Linked DNA regions of Homo sapiens: region 2 is linked to region 1. Evidence: fine-mapped expression QTL. Tissue or cell type: skeletal muscle. Region 1 holds a variant in brackets; the other region holds the start of a gene. All regions are shown on one strand. Distances are from middle to middle.

The links. PIP is the estimated chance that this variant, and not a neighbour inherited with it, causes the effect.
Region 2: it holds the start of IBSP, and the variant in region 1 is fine-mapped to the expression of IBSP in skeletal muscle (FUSION, PIP 0.95).

The regions. Positions count from the first base shown.
Region 1 is chr4:87,702,706-87,710,817 of GRCh38, forward strand. The region is part of intron 2 of DMP1-AS1 (DMP1 and DSPP antisense RNA 1); the gene reads right to left. Among named protein-coding and RNA genes, the nearest start is that of DMP1-AS1, 26 kb to the right of the region's middle. RefSeq lists an enhancer at 7,958-8,112. The variant CCT/C (reference allele first, on the strand shown) is at 3,244.
Region 2 is chr4:87,795,016-87,803,127 of GRCh38, forward strand. It overlaps IBSP (integrin binding sialoprotein), which reads left to right and starts at 4,539. Exons shown (of 7, transcript NM_004967.4): 1 at 4,539-4,618; 2 at 7,333-7,400; 3 at 7,493-7,543; 4 at 7,639-7,716. The coding sequence starts at 7,347. RefSeq lists promoters at 1-4,596, 3,609-4,596, 4,214-4,687, a silencer at 66-3,609 and cis regulatory regions at 4,127-4,136, 4,338-4,344.

The DNA of each region.
Region 1 (8,112 bases):
TGCCATTTCTTCCTCATATTTTTTAAAAATTCTCCATACGGCTAGTAATTTTTAATTTTTAAGCCTGACATGGGATGCTATATTGTTGAGCTTCTGAATTTATTTGTCTTCCTATGAAGAATATTGGATCTTATTCTGGCAGAGGATTAAGTTACTGGCAGCTCAGCTTGATTCTGCTGAGGGGCTTGGTTTTCAGCTTTGTTAGAGTAGGCCTAGAGTACACTTATGCCAGGGCTAGAGTAGTCCCTACTCCTAAATCATGATCTTTCTGGGGCCTCAATTTTGGGTTGTTGGCATTCCCCTGTCTCTCAGCACTATGTATTCTCTAGTATTTCCATTTAAGCCACAAAAAGCAGCCCAAAGTATCTGCTTTTTCCTAGGCCTCTTTGAATTGTACCATATGCATGCACAGGCATTCAGTCAAAGACTTAACAGAGGATATTGATGCAGATTCCTGGGGACTCTTGTCTGCTAAGCTCCTTTATTTCTGGTAACCTGAGATGCAAATTTCAGCTCCTTCAGTAGTCCTAAATTTCAATCTCCCTTTTATATGGCCAGCAAGACTGTTGCTGTCTGCTTAAACTCCACTTTTTGGGGTCACAGTTTGGAAATTACTCTCAGATAGTAAACTATAGTAAGTAAGGCATCCACCTATGCTTTATGTCTCTCTCAAGGATTATAGCCCTTGGCTGTCTGTTGACCAAAGCCTGGAAAAACTTGATTAATATATCTTATACAGTCTCACATATGTAAAAGTGGGAGAATAAGTCTAATATCTATTCCTTCCATCATGTCCAGGGCCAGAAGTTGGATTTTCAAAAATGTTCCCCACCAGCAATCTCTTCCAATTCCAGTTCCTTTCATAGACTGGTATTAGTGGAATGTTAGTTCAGCTTATTTGACAAGGACATGAAAAATGTTGGTCCACAAGACAGAAGCTTATTTCTGTTCCATGTAAATTCCTACTTGAATGGGAAGTTCCTTCTGTAAAGTTGCCAGGGGTCTGAAGTCCTTCTCTCTTGTGGATCTACTACTCCTCGAATCATGCTTATCTGAGAGGGCTCACTACTTTGCTCTTACTCTAATTTGTTGGAAGGGAGAAAAGCAGAAGGAAAGAGTACACCCTTTTCCTTGAAAAACATGAGCCATAAGCAGCACATTACTCAAACCCCAGAGCTTAGTCTACAATGGGGGCTGGGAAATGGACTTTTCATTCTGTACAACCATGGTCCCAGCTAACACTCAGGAGTTCTCTTATTAAAAAAGAAAGAAGAGATATTAAATACAAGTAGTATCACTGCCATGACACTACTTTCATTAGTGGATATGTATCTTAGAGACTCAGTAAAATACCATATTCTGTTCTTTTATTTAAATTAGATGTCAAGTTTCTATCTAGTTGAACTGGTGGAAAGTTCAACTTCACTCATTCTTAGCAGCCACTTCCCCGGCTGTGATTGTGCTGAGTGTCTAGGGGAGTATCAAGTTTTGGGAAGTCCCTCAAGTCATCGGTCATGAGGCTACACTGATTTCTGCTAAGATTGTAGCCCCAGCCTGTAGAGCTGCAGAGATCCTTCAATTTGATGCTCTGCTGCTCCTCGCCTCTCTTGGCATACAATATCTTCAATGAGCTACAGCCACAAGCCTAGGATCCTGCATGTCACATGCAGCATATGTCCATTTATCTGTACTGCTCTCAAACCATCAGCCTCAATCTAGTTCTCAATCCAGAAGAAAACTTTCTTTTTAGCCTGGGAAATCTCTCTCTCCTTCTCTCTCTCTCTTTTTCTCTTTGTATGTCTTGTTGTCCAAGAACCACCTCCTCAAACTATTCTTTCAGTGAATTTAGGGTTTTAAAAACAAAAGCCAGGAAGTCATGTCTCAAACTCTCCTCAAGGCAAGGAACATGTGAACCTCTTACCTATATGAATAGGGGAAGGGAAGAGGGAAAATAATGGGTAAAAACATACATTATTAACTAAAAGAAAAATACCACCAGAGTAGAGTGATTTCCTAAAATCAGCTCAGATGATGTTCTTTCTCTTTTTTTCTTTTTCTTCCTTTTCTTTTCTTTCTTTCTTTACTTTTTATTTTTTATTTTTTATTTGAAATGTAGTCTTGCTCTGCCACCCAGGCTGGGGTGCAGTTGTGCAATCTTGGCTCACTGCAACCTCCACCTCCTGGATTCAAGCGATTCTCCTACTTCAGCCTCCCAAGTAGCTGGGACTACAGGCACACACCACCACAACCTGCTAATTTTTGTATTTTTAGTAGAGATGGGGTTTCACCATGTTGGCCAGGCTGGTCTTGAACTCCTGACCTCAAATGATCCAACCACCTCATCCTCCCAAAGTGTTGGGATTACAGGCATGAACCACTGCCCCTGGCCTCAAATCATACCCTTTCATAGGTTATAGTTCTCCATTTTCTCCCCACCCCATCTCTTCATCACCTTGACATCCTAGTGAACAGCCAGATCCGCCTTCACTTAACAGCATAACTTGTCAGCAGGGAAAGTATGCCTTTTACAATTTGGATTCAATGAATGCATTTTTAGCTTCATCTTGTGCCAAACTGAAACTTTTCTATTTTGCTTTGTGACATTTTTTGCCTTTTATACTTCCAATTTCTTCTGCTTGATATCTCCTACATGGCCTGCTTTCCAATATTTCATCATGAAAATTTCTGTTCATACTTCAAGTCTGGCTAGAACACTGTTTCTGCTGGGAAGTTTCCCCTAGTACTTCCAGGCATCTTGGAGTATTTAGGTACCTGAGCCCTTTACAGTGCGCTCATGCACAGTTGAAGGCTCCCAGTAAATGAGACTCCTGTTCCAGACCCCCACTGCCTCTTAGTCTAAACAACACCTAGAATACTCATTGTTAAATGCCTGTTTCATGCACTGGATTGTGATCCTTTCAAGGGCAACATGATATCTTATCACAGATGTGTTCTTGCCTGACAGTATACGTGGCACATGAAGGTGCTGAAAGACACTGTATTAGTTTCCTAGGGCTGCTGTAACAAATTACCACAAACTGGTAACAACACAAATTGATTCTCTCCTAGTTCGGGAGGCTAGAAGTAGGAAGTCAAGGCTCTCAAGGGTCTCCCACTCTCTGTCTAGGGGAGAATACTTGCTTGCCTCTGCCAGCTTCTCACAGCACCTGCTGTTCCTTGGTTTGTGACTGCACACCTCCAGTCACTGCCTGCATCTTCACACAGGCTTCTCTTCCCTCTCTC[CCT/C]CTCTCTCTCTCTCTCTCTGTCTCTCTCTGTCTCTCTGTCTTCTCTTCTGCCTTTTATAAAGACACTTGTTGTTGGATTTAGGGCCCAGATGTAATCCAGGATGATGTTATCTCAAGACTCTTAACTATGTCTGCTGCAAAGACCCTTTTTCCAAAGAAGGCCACATTCACAGGTTCCAGTACACATATCTTTAGGCAGCCCACTAAAAATGCTTTTTAAATGAATGAGTAAATTAAAAAGTGAACTGTATATATACATGTATTTACATGCACAAACGATGAAGACAAGAGATATTACTTTTTTACATCTTTGTTACCTTCTATTTGTAAACTCACTTTGTAGATAATATATCATGCTTGTTGCTCTGTGCATGATGAGAGTTCTGTTACGTTAAGTAATCCCACAATTCAAAAATGAGTTGTTAAAGCAAAAGACACAATTTGGAAATCTATACAATCATTCTAACGATATTTTCTGACACAACTTTGTCTTTTTTCAAAAAAAGCATGTAAGACATAAATTGAGAGGTTACTATATGAATAAAAGAAGGGTTTTCAAATAGGCATTTCTACATATAGTCACCTTACTCTTGGTCCCTCAAAAAAAAGTCTACTTTTAAAAACAGGGCTGGTAAGACTGACCAGTGTTTCTTTTTGTGGAGAGTTATATTTGTATATTTTCACAAACAGAACAGGTTGGGCAGTTACAAACATAGAAAAATATAATGAAAAGATCCAGATTCATTTTGTTTGGTTTTAATATAGTCTTTTTCTCTTTCCACTTTCAATATGACTGAGAGATTTAATTTGAGTAATACCACAGGAATGTAGTTTCAAGAAGGAAAAATGTTCAAATAACCATCTCCCTCTTCCTCACTTAAAAAAAGAATAATTTGCTATAATATATGTTGAAAGGTTTTTGAGATATTTCCTTTTTGCTGGCATTTGTGTCCTTTCTTATGTAAGCAAATAAATAGAAAACATTGAAACTTAAATATATTTCTCAAAAGAGGGTTTTATGCAAAATACAATTGTTCTTTTTTTATTTCAAAACAATAGCACCAGTTAATATTATTATAAAAATAATAAATTTAATATGTGTATATCTTTTTTGCCCACTTCTATATTTTGTTTCTCAATGTGATTTCTTCTGAGATACATATTGGATTTTTCTGAGAAACTCATGAGTCTTTAAAAATAGCAGATTGGAAACATGGCGCATTGGATCCCAAGCCTTTACTTTGGGAGCACATGGGCAGCTGGGGCACCAGGACACTATTCTCAGTACTTAAGAAGGCCACAGCTTGGGGAAAGGGGGTATACAGAATTGTCACAGGCATGATCCTTCTGTTCAGTTTTCAGCAGAATTGACAGGCTCAAAATTACCTTTTCTCCTTCCCTGCAGCCTCTAAAAGCTTTGCATAGTCCCTTCACAATAATCCCCTTTTATATCAATCTCTCTCCTTTTTTCTTCAAGTCTTCCAGGTTGTTCTAGGACAGCCAAGATTCACAAGCAGTATATTGTCGCTTCTTTCCCTAGCACTAGAGGCAGACTTCGCTAATCAATCACAATATTCTTCCTTGTTAGGCCTAGATTGGGTCTCAAACACAGGCTTCCGGGGGCCATTTCCTTGCTCAAATTGTACAAGAGACACAGATTTTTGACATTTTTGCCCTAGTTCATGAGATGGTGTCCTTATCATGCGTAGCTCTTGCTAAACTCTTTCCCCAGGGAGGCAGTATCTTGCTTCCTGTAATCTCCTGCTGCTGAGAAGGCCCCTGCTTGGAATCACAGTTCCACCACCTGCCTAAAGCAGTGCCTGCTGCCTGGGCTCCCCCATACCCTGGCCTGCTTGCTGGATCAGAGTCCCTGGTAGAAAGCCCCTCCTTGGTCAGATCTGAGACTCCTACCCCTTTTGACTACTGTCTTGGATTCCATGGTGGGGTAAGTCTCTTCATCTAGGGGCCTTTTCCCTGCGCCTGGCCTCCCTGTTCTGGCTTCCACTGTATTTCTAGTGACTGGGATTCCTGGGATCTAGACACATTTTGTTCCAAAGGACCCCTGCTACAATGCTCAAAAATCAGTCCCAGTTGTTTCATTTACAATACACATTTTTGTTAGGATTAAATGCTGTAATTCTTATGAGACAATTAACATGGTTCCTATCACATAATAAGCACTCAATTAATATTAGCTACTATAAGTTCTGTTATAATTTTCATCGTCATCATCATCATCATGATCATTTCTATCAGGATCTCCATCTTAATTTGAGAAAGGCTTTTTCTGCAATAATCAGGAACAGGACAAGTCCCAGAGACCATCTGGCTGCTAATGGACTGGAGACAACATACCTAACAAGTGTTCAAATTGGAGCCCATAGCAAACATTAATGATGGTCATCTTTTACTGAGAGCTCTGTGTCAAGAACTTCCCACATAGTATCTTAATTAACCCCCATAACAACCAAATTGTGTGGGAGTTATAACTCCCATTTTATTGATGAGAAAACGCAGGATTAGTGAATCCCATGCCTAACAAAAACGATAGTGAAACTGATATCAGATCCAGCCCTTTTTAAACACAAAACTCCATTCTTTTTCTCTTGAACATGTTACTTCTCTACAAACAGCCTGAATCCTGAAAGCAGAGCTTACTTTCTGGGCTTCCAGCTAATCAAGTCTGGTCTTATGGCCTGCGTGTTTCCTGCCTAGCCATATCATTAGGTAATTCCCGAAACTTTCCTCTTGTATCCTTACCTTTTGTTTTCTTTCTTCTCCTCTTCTAATCTGGCAGCCACACTCCTACTTCTATTTGTTCTTAGCCACTCTGGTTCCAATTTGCACCATCAGCCCTAAAGATCCAAACCAAGCTTAAATCCTCCATTTAGTCTGCTTAGACTATTATAGCCCACTTTCAAGTGATTTAACCCTCTCCTTCAAATTCCTTTTACTCTCTTGTTATCTGCATTTAGTGCCACACAATTATTATTCTTAGTTATTGCCTAATTATTTCAAATGTGCATTCATTCAACTACTACATGTTTAAATACATATTATAAATCAGAAACTGAGTTAAGCAACATATATGGAGATATATAGACAAGTATGCTATTACAAAACCCTTAAGGTAATATTAGTTGAGCAAATAAGAAATATAGACAAATAGTTATAGTAGTGTTTTGAGTTTAAAAAGTACCATGAGAAATAAAGACAGCTAAAAGAATTCAGACAAGGGAAGGCTTACTTCTACCACGAAGGGAATGAGGAAGAAATAATGATTCATTTAACTGAGGTAGAAGATTCTGATACCGAGAGAGAGAGCACTCTGGCAGGCACTGCCTGACACAGGCGTGGAGTCTGGTGAGGGCACTATCAAGGACTAATGAGCCACTGTCGTCTAACTGTGCTTTAGAGTGTCTGGAGGAGAACTGTGGGATAGTGTACATGGAGGAAGTCCTTAAATACCATGTAATGGTATCACTGGTTAAAAGAGGGGGTCACTGGAAATTTTTGAAATGATATAGTCAGAACTGTTGTTTTTGCCGGGTGCAGTGGCTCACACCTGTAATCCCAACATTTTGGGAGGCTGAAGTAGGTGGTTTGCTTGAGCCGAGTAGTTCGATACCAGCCTGGGCAACACAGCAAAACCCTGTCTCTACAAAAGATACAAAAATGAGCTGAGCATGGTGTTCATGCCTGTGGTCCCAGCTACTCGAGAGGCTGAGGTGCGAGGATCACCCGACGAGGCTGCAGTGAGCCATCATGGCGCTGCTGCACTCCAGCCTGGGCAACAAGTGAGACTTTGTCTCAAAACAGAACAAAACAAAATTGTTGTTTTGCATCCCTCCCCCTAATTAACAGAAAGTCTATTAAAGTTTAAAATCATGTTTTCATATTTCATTCACATTTCCTTAGAACTTGGCACAACTGTGGACACAAATAAATATTTAATAAATAACCAGTGACTGATAAGAAGCAGTTACATATTATAGCTCTTTTATATATTTGCTTATCAATTTTCATGTTCATTTTAATTCTAACTAAAAAGAAACTAGAATTTTTTAAATTAAAAAGTGTAGAGTCTAATTAGGTGGCATGATATTTAAGCAAAACAGCCCTTTGCCTCTGAATCAGTCCACTGACCTACAGATACCATTACAGGTGTTAACTTCAGCTTCAAAAATATTTGTTATAAGATGGTAAACTCCAGATAAAACATTCCTTAAAACATGACTTTAGTATTCATTATATTACCTCATTTTTTCTCCAGTATGGATTTTTAAAATTTGTTTGCAGAAATTTTTTTCCCCAAATCTTACCAAGTATCTGGAAAATCTTGTCTTAGCCTTTATCTTTGGTTTTAAAAGTGTGATTCAAATCATTTTACATACTCACTTTTAACGTTATGAAAAAGCTATCAGGGACAGGAGCCAAGATGGCCGAATAGGAACAGCTCCGGTCTACAGCTCCCAGCGTGAGCGACGCAGAAGATGGTGATTTCTGCATTTCCATCTGAGGTACCGGGTTCATCTCACTAGGGAGTGCCAGATAGTGGGTGCAGGTCAGTGGGTGCGCGCACCGTGCGCGAGCCGAAGCAGGGCGAGGCATTGCCCCACTTGGGAAGCGCAAGGGGTCAGGGAGTTCCCTTTCCGAGTCAAAGAAAGGGGTGACGGACGCACCTGGAAAATCGGGTCACTCCCACCCGAATACTGCGCTTTTCCGACTGGCTTAAAAAATGGGGCACCACAAGATTATATCCCGCACCTGGCTCGGAGGGTCCTACGCCCACGGAGTCTCGCTGATTGCTAGCACAGCAGTTTGAGATCAAACTGCAAGGTGGCAGCGAGGCTGGGGGAGGGGCGCC
Region 2 (8,112 bases), 92 kb after region 1:
TCTTTTTATGAGTCTGTATTTTCCAAGTAACTTTTATGAAAGAAAAGATGACTTATCCAAAGAATCTAAATCAACAGAATATACATTTTTTTCAGCACCACACCACACCTATTCCAAAATTGACCACATACTTGGAAGTAAAGCTCTCCTCAGCAAATGTAAAAGAACAGAAATTATAACAAACTATCTCTCAGACCACAGTGCAATCAAACTAGAACTCAGGATTAAGAATCTCACCCAAACCGCTCAACTACATGGAAACTGAACAACCTGCTCCTGAATGACTACTGGGTACATAATGAAATGAAGGCAGAAATAAAGATGTTCTTTGAAACCAATGAGAACAAAGACACAACATACCAGAATCTCTAGGACGCATTCAAAGCAGTGTGTAGAGGGAAATTTATAGCACTAAATGCCCACAAAAGAAAGCAGGAAAGATCCAAAATTGACACCCTAACGTCACAATTAAAAGAACTAGAAAAGCAAGAGCAAACACATTCAAAAGCTAGCAGAAGGCAAAAAATAACTAAAATCAGAGCAGAACTGAAGGAAATAGAGACACAAAAAACTCTTCAAAAAATTAATGAATCCAGGAGCTGGTTTTTTGAAAGGATCAACAAAATTGATAGACCGCTAGCAAGACTAATAAAGAAGAAAAGAGAGAAGAATCAAATAGACGCAATAAAAAATGATAAAGGGGATATCACCAACGATCCCACAGAAATACAAACTACCATCAGAGAATACTACAAACACCTCTATGCAAATAAACTAGAAAATCTAGAAGAAATGGATAAATTCCTTGACACATACACTCTCCCAAGACTAAACCAGGAAGAAGTTGAATCTCTGAATAGACCAATAACAGGATCTGAAATTGTGGCAATAATCAATAGCTTACCAACCAAAAAGAGTCCAGGACCAGATGGATTCACAGCCGAATTCTACCAGAGGTACAAGGAGGAACTGGTACCATTCCTTCTGAAACTATTCCAATCAATAGAAAAAGAAGGAATCCTCCCTAACTCTTTTTATGAGGCCAGCATCATTCTGATACCAAAGCCTGGCAGAGACACAACCAAAAAAGAGAATTTTAGACCAATATCCTTGATGAACATTGATGCAAAAATCCTCAATAAAATACTGGCAAACCAAATCCAGCAGCACATCAAAAAGCTTATCCACCATGATCAAGTCGACTTCATCCCTGGGATGCAAGGCTGGTTCAATATACGCAAATCAATAAATGTAATCCAGCATATAAACAGAGCCAAAGACAAAAACCACATGATTATCTCAATAGATGCAGAAAAGGCCTTTGACAAAATTCAACAACCTTTCATGCTAAAAACTCTCAATAAATTAGGTATTGATGGGACATATTTCAAAATAATAAGAGCTATCTATGACAAACCCACAGCCAATATCATACTGAATGGGCAAAAACTGGAAGCATTCCCTTTGAAAACTGGCACAAGACAGGGATGCCCTCTCTCACCACTCCTATTCAACATAGTGTTGGAAGTTCTGGCCAGGGCAATCAGGCAGGAGAAGGAAATAAAGGGTATTCAATTAGGAAAAGAGGAAGTCAAATTGTCCCTGTTTGCAGATGACATGATTGTATATCTAGAAAACCCCATTGTCTCAGCCCAAAATCTCTTTAAGCTGATAAGCAACTTCAGCAAAGTCTCAGGATACAAAATCAATGTGCAAAAATCACAAGCATTCCTATACACCAACAACAGACAAACAGAGAGCCAAATCATGAGTGAACTCCCATTCACAATTGCTTCAAAGAGAATAAAATACCTAGGAATCCAACTTACAAGGGATGTGAAGGACCTCTTCAAGGAGAACTACAAACCGCTGCTCAAGGAAATAAAAGAGGATACAAACAAATGGAAGAACATTCCATGCTCATGGTAGGAAGAATCAATATCGTGAAAATAGCCATACTGCCCAAGGTAATTTACAGATTCAATGCCATCCCCATCAAGCTACCAATGCCTTTCTTCACAGAATTGGAAAAAACTACTTTCAAGTTCATATGGAACCAAAAAAGAGCCCGCATCACCAAGGCAATCCTAAGCCAAAAGAACAAAGCTGGAGGCATCACACTACCTGACTTCAAACTATACTACAAGGCTACAGTAACCAAAACAGCATGGTACTGGTACCAAAACAGAGATATAGATCAATGGAACAGAACAGAGCCCTCAGAAATAACGCCACATATCTACAACTATCTGATCTTTGACAAACCTGAGAAAAACAAGCAATGGGGAAAGGATTCCCTATTTAATAAATGGTGCTGGGAAAACTGGCTAGCCATATGTAGAAAGCTGAAACTGGATCCCTTCCTTACACCTTATACAAAAATCAATTCAAGATGGATTAAAGACTTAAACGTTAGACCTAAAACCATAAAAACCCTAGAAGAAAACCTAGGCATTACCATTCAGGACATAGGCATGGGCAAGGACTTCATGTCTAAAACACCAAAAGCAAGGCAACAAAAGACAAAATTGACAAATGGGATCTAATTAAACTAAAGAGCTTCTGCACAGCAAAAGAAACTACCATCAGAGTGAACAGGCAACCTACAAAATGGGAGAAAATTTTCGCAACCTACTCATCTGACAAAGGGCTAATATCCAGAATCTACAATGAACTCAAACAAATTTACAAGAAAAAAACAAACAACCCCATCAAAAAGTGGGCAAAGGACTTGAACAGACCCTTCTCAAAAGAAGACATTTATGCAGCCAAAAAACACATGAAAAAATGCTCACCATCACTGGCCATCAGAGAAATGCAAATCAAAACCACTATGAGATACCATCTCACACCAGTTAGAATGGCAATCATTAAAAAGTCAGGAAACAACAGGTGCTGGAGAGGATGTGGAGAAATAGGAACACTTTTACGCTGTTGGTGGGACTGTAAACTAGTTCAACCATTGTGGAAGTCAGTGTGGCAATTCCTCAGGGATCTAGAACTAGAAATACCATTTGACCCAGCAATCCCATTACTGGGTATATACCCAAAGGACTATAAATCATGCTGCTATAAAGACACATGCACACGTATGTTTATTGCGGCATTATTCACAATAGCAAAGACTTGGAACCAACCCAAATGTCCAACAATGATAGATTGGATTAAGAAAATGTGGCACATATACACCATGGAATACTATGCAGCCATAAAAAATGATGAGTTCATGTCCTTTGTGGGGACATGTATGAAATTGGAAACCATCATTCTCAGTAAACTATCACAAGAACAAAAAACCAAACACCACATATTCTCACTCATAGGTGGGAATTGAACAATGAGATCACATGGACACAGGAAGGGGAACATCACACTCTGGGGACTGTTGTGGGGTGGGGGGAGTGGGGAGGGATAGCATTGGGAGATATACCTAATGCTAGATGATGAGTTAGTGGGTGCAGCACACCAGCATGGCACATGTATACGTATGTAACTAACCTGCACAATGTGCACATGTACCCTAAAACTTAAAGTATAATAATAAAAAAAATTAAGAGAAAAAAAGAAAAAAAATGATATTCATTAATTTTTGATTTCTCAAGCAGACTTCGCAACTGGAGGAAGAATAAAATGACTAGACTAGGAGAATATGCAAACTATTAAGCTAGATTTCCCTTTGTAAATTAAAAAATTAGTACTTTAGTTTATCAATCCATTCTTTGTGGTGTTGGTTTCATGAATCATTTCAAAAACAATGGATCACTCCTGCTAGCTCTAGTCATTTTGTTATTCTCATAGGAAAAAAATTAAATATGAAAATGAATAGAAAAGATATATATAGAAGCCCAAGAAAAAAATGAGCTGACCTCACATGCACGACAGGAAGGGCCACATAAATGGACAATATACAGAGATTTAATTTACAAAACAAAATATAAAATCTGCCTCTCAGTGGTATGATTCTCAAAAGTTCTAACTTTTATACTCAGCATCATGTTTTAGCAACTATATCTTACAAAGTCTGACCGACTTAATCATATCAACTTTAATTTATGAGTCAATGAAGTATATTTCAGGAGGAAACATCAAATGATATTAAAATATTGATGGTTCATCTGCTCCTTTCCCTTATTATTTAGTTTTTCTTTCTTTTTTTAGCTAAACTAATGTAAAATTATATCTAATGACAGCAAGCTTTCCTTTCTTTCGACATAGTGAAAACTTGTATAATTATGAAATTTTTAAAAGGTTAAAGCCTTTGTTATTTATTTTAATTCAAATCCAGTATATTATTATACATATTCGGAGCCCAAACTATTCATCTTCATCTAAACCTTCAATTAAATTCCACAATGCAAACCTCTTGGCTCTAGAATCACGTTTCTTGTTTATTCAACTGAGCCTGTGTCTTGAAAAAGTGTTGAAGTTTGGGGGTTTTCTGGTGAGAATCCACGTTCTGACATCACCTTGGTCGTGACAGTGATTGGCTGTTGGAAGGCAAAGAAGAGTTTATAGCCAGCAAGAGCAAGTGAATGAGTGAGTGAGAGGGCAGAGGAAATACTCAATCTGTGCCACTCACTGCCTTGAGCCTGCTTCCTCACTCCAGGACTGCCAGAGGGTAAGATTTAATAGAACAACTTCATTATCATAAAATTAGACACTCCATAGTTTACATCTCTGAACTTGGCTTTGAATTTTTCATTTAAATGATGTTATTGCATTGTACATGGTTTAATAATTATTTATCATTAAACTGGCACTTCAGATTTTAAATTCTTTCCAAAAGGCTAAACTTATTAACCTAAGCATGTAAATAAGTTCTTAATACTATGCACATAAACTACATTATGCTTCTTACTTTCATTCTCTGCAAATCATAGCTTAACTGTTTGTTTTCTCATTCTGATGCATTCAAGATAACCTGATTGAAATACTATTTTGCATTTGCAAATCTGGCTAGATATATGCATATTTCTCTACAAATTATACCTAGTCTGTACTTCAAGTACATATGTTGTCTTTTCAACATATTAAACATTAGGTTTTGATGTTTCCTATAGCTCTAAAGTCAGAACAGAAAATATATTGTACTAACTAGAGAAATAAATACTCTTGGTAGTTTATCATACCCTTCCCAATAAAACTTGAAATTAAATCCTCAAAATTCTCCTTTAAGAATGTTTGAATTGTTGTCTGGGTTAGTAGTGGTCACTATAGAGGTCTTGGCTTTTTGTTGACTCACAAAGTAAATAAAATTAGATTTATATAGGCAGCCAATCCTGACTACAAGAACTACTTGGTTCTTTGTATTGTTATTATTATTATTTATGCCATCTTTTCATCTGGTTATTTTTATTGTTATGAGAAATTTGTGTAATCAAAACTATTTCTATAATTCTATGTATCTAAGCTTTTAGCTCTTTAAAATATTATAAATATTCCGACCCTTCTCACAAAGTGGCAAAGCAATAATCTTTCTGTTTTGCTGATGGGCTTGGTCACGGCTGGCAAAGTTCAAAGCATTATTTAGACCACCCCGATAGAAATCAGTGCTGCTTAAAAAGATGGGCTCCTTCAGGAGCAAAGCCTGTTTATTCCCAAGGGGCCATCAAGACCTTTTACTAAGATAGGACTGTGAGAAACTGTCTGGGCACCAAAACCCAAAGACTCACTCTGACACACAAAAAGAGTGTGACTTAGGACCCAAGACAGTATCTCCAGGACTTAGTGTCAGATACTCAGTAAGGATGCAATAAATCTTGGCTGATGATGACACAATACACAATTTACCAGCAGGTTTCAATATATGACATTGGTTTGCACATTTTAAGTATTATTTTCAAAATGTATTCATGGGAAATTGCCATCACCACTACATTTTGCTTCCAAAATATTGCCAAAGCTGTGACTGTGTATGAGAAGGTGCTAACAGTTAAATGTGTATGTAAATGTAAATGGCTGAGTGTTAGTAGGCTTTCAGCTAAGCTTGCCCAACTTCTATTATGATATAATTTTAAATACAATTTTATTAAATAGAATAAAATTAAGATAGGATAGCATTTCACTATCTCCTTTTACTCATGAGGAATTTATGTGGAACTGAGGCTCTTTTTATGGCTGCAATCCCCAAGATTATTCAGGCCCTATTCCCACTTTGAGAGCTGCATCTTCGATTGTTCCATAGAATTGAAATTTTCATCCATGTCTGTCACCCTAACCCTGGAGAGCCCCTAATCCATCCCAGTACAGTCTCATACACTAGCAGATGGAAAGCTTAAATGGAGCTGGAGAGCAAATTAATTTGAGGAAATCTGCCCCCGATATCTCAAGGCGAAACTCTGAAGAACTCCTCATGGAAGCATCCTTAGCGGAGTTGCTGTTGCGTGCTACATGATGTCAGTGTGATATTTCATATATTATGGATCCTCTCTGTCTCTCTGTCTCTGTCTCTCATCCACCCACCCATACACACACACACACACACACACACACACACACACGCATATACACACACACACACACCAATTATTCCAAGATGTTCAGAGGAAAATTGCTCCTACTTTCCATTTTACAAATAAATTTTTAGCCCAAAACCTATATAGAAGCTGGAAACCGCCTATAGGGTATCAGTGATTTTTGCTTTTTTGTTTTATTTTTGAGACAGGATCTCACTCTGTTGCCCAGGGTGGAGTACAGTGGTATGAACACGGCTCACTGCAACCTTGGCCTCCCAGGCTCAGCCTCTCGAGTAACTAGGCCTACTGGTGTGCACCACCATGCCAAGCTAATTTCTGCACTGTTTGTAGAGGACAAGTTTCACCATGTTGCCCAGGCTCATCTCAAACTCTTGGACTCAAGCGATCTGCCCACCTTGGCCTCCCAAAGTACTGGTTTTAGAGGCATGAGCCACCATACCTGGTCGAGTTTTTAATTGTAAACAAACAAACAGGGCACACAACTACACTAACAATTCAATTCACTTAGCTGACACTCCATGTCAATATTAAGAGGGCCATTACGCCAGTGTGAAGTACCCTAAGTAGTCAAAATCTCTTGCAGTAATGAAAAGGTCTTCCATTGAGAAATCACAAAAAATAGGTTAAAACCAAGTATGGAACTCAAGATTATTTAAACGGATGGGTTAAGTCAGTCTTATATTACTTAAATGGAAGGAATAATTTGAAAATAAAAGGAATAATTTAGTTTTAATTAGTCAAAGTGATAATTACACAGAAATGAAAACAAATTAAATACTTCATCTTTGAATATGAGTAAAAAAGTTATGCTCTTAGTTTTAATATTTTATTAACCTTACCACTTCATTAATTCCAGAAGCAATCACCAAAATGAAGACTGCTTTAATTTTGCTCAGCATTTTGGGAATGGCCTGTGCTTTCTCAGTAAGTTCTTTATCAAAACCCACAGTTATTTTCAGTTTTGTCTTTTTATGTAAAAGAAAAATTATGCAATAATTAAATGTTCTTTAAAACAGATGAAAAATTTGCATCGAAGAGTCAAAATAGAGGATTCTGAAGAAAATGGGGTAATTAATTTTAGCATACTTCCTTGGCCTGATTATACTTGCTGTATATTTATTGCATATTAAACATGAATATATCATTTATTTTGTTTTTGCAGGTCTTTAAGTACAGGCCACGATATTATCTTTACAAGCATGCCTACTTTTATCCTCATTTAAAACGATTTCCAGTTCAGGTAAATATAGAAATTCATTTTTCTTCAGTTTAATTTCTATTATAATTTAAAGGAGATCAAATTTTAACTATAAAACACCTAAATTCAACTCTCACTGAAATTCAGTCAAAAAGACTGCTTACTATAAGAAGTTTGTTTTTAGGGAAATAAGGTTTATTTCTAAGTTCTCTTTTAAGGCAGACATATACACAGAGTAAAATCATTTGGATCATTTGGGTACAGTCTAGAATGATATAATAAAAACAAACACTGTAGCACATTGAGCTCTGGTATTTTTGCTAACTCACAGACAAAAGTGGACAGTTTTATCAGTTGTTGACCAATTCCATCAGTGATAAGGTCACTGGCTGTCCTATTACAGCTGATTCAATACTGTCAGATAGCTGTTTACATGTG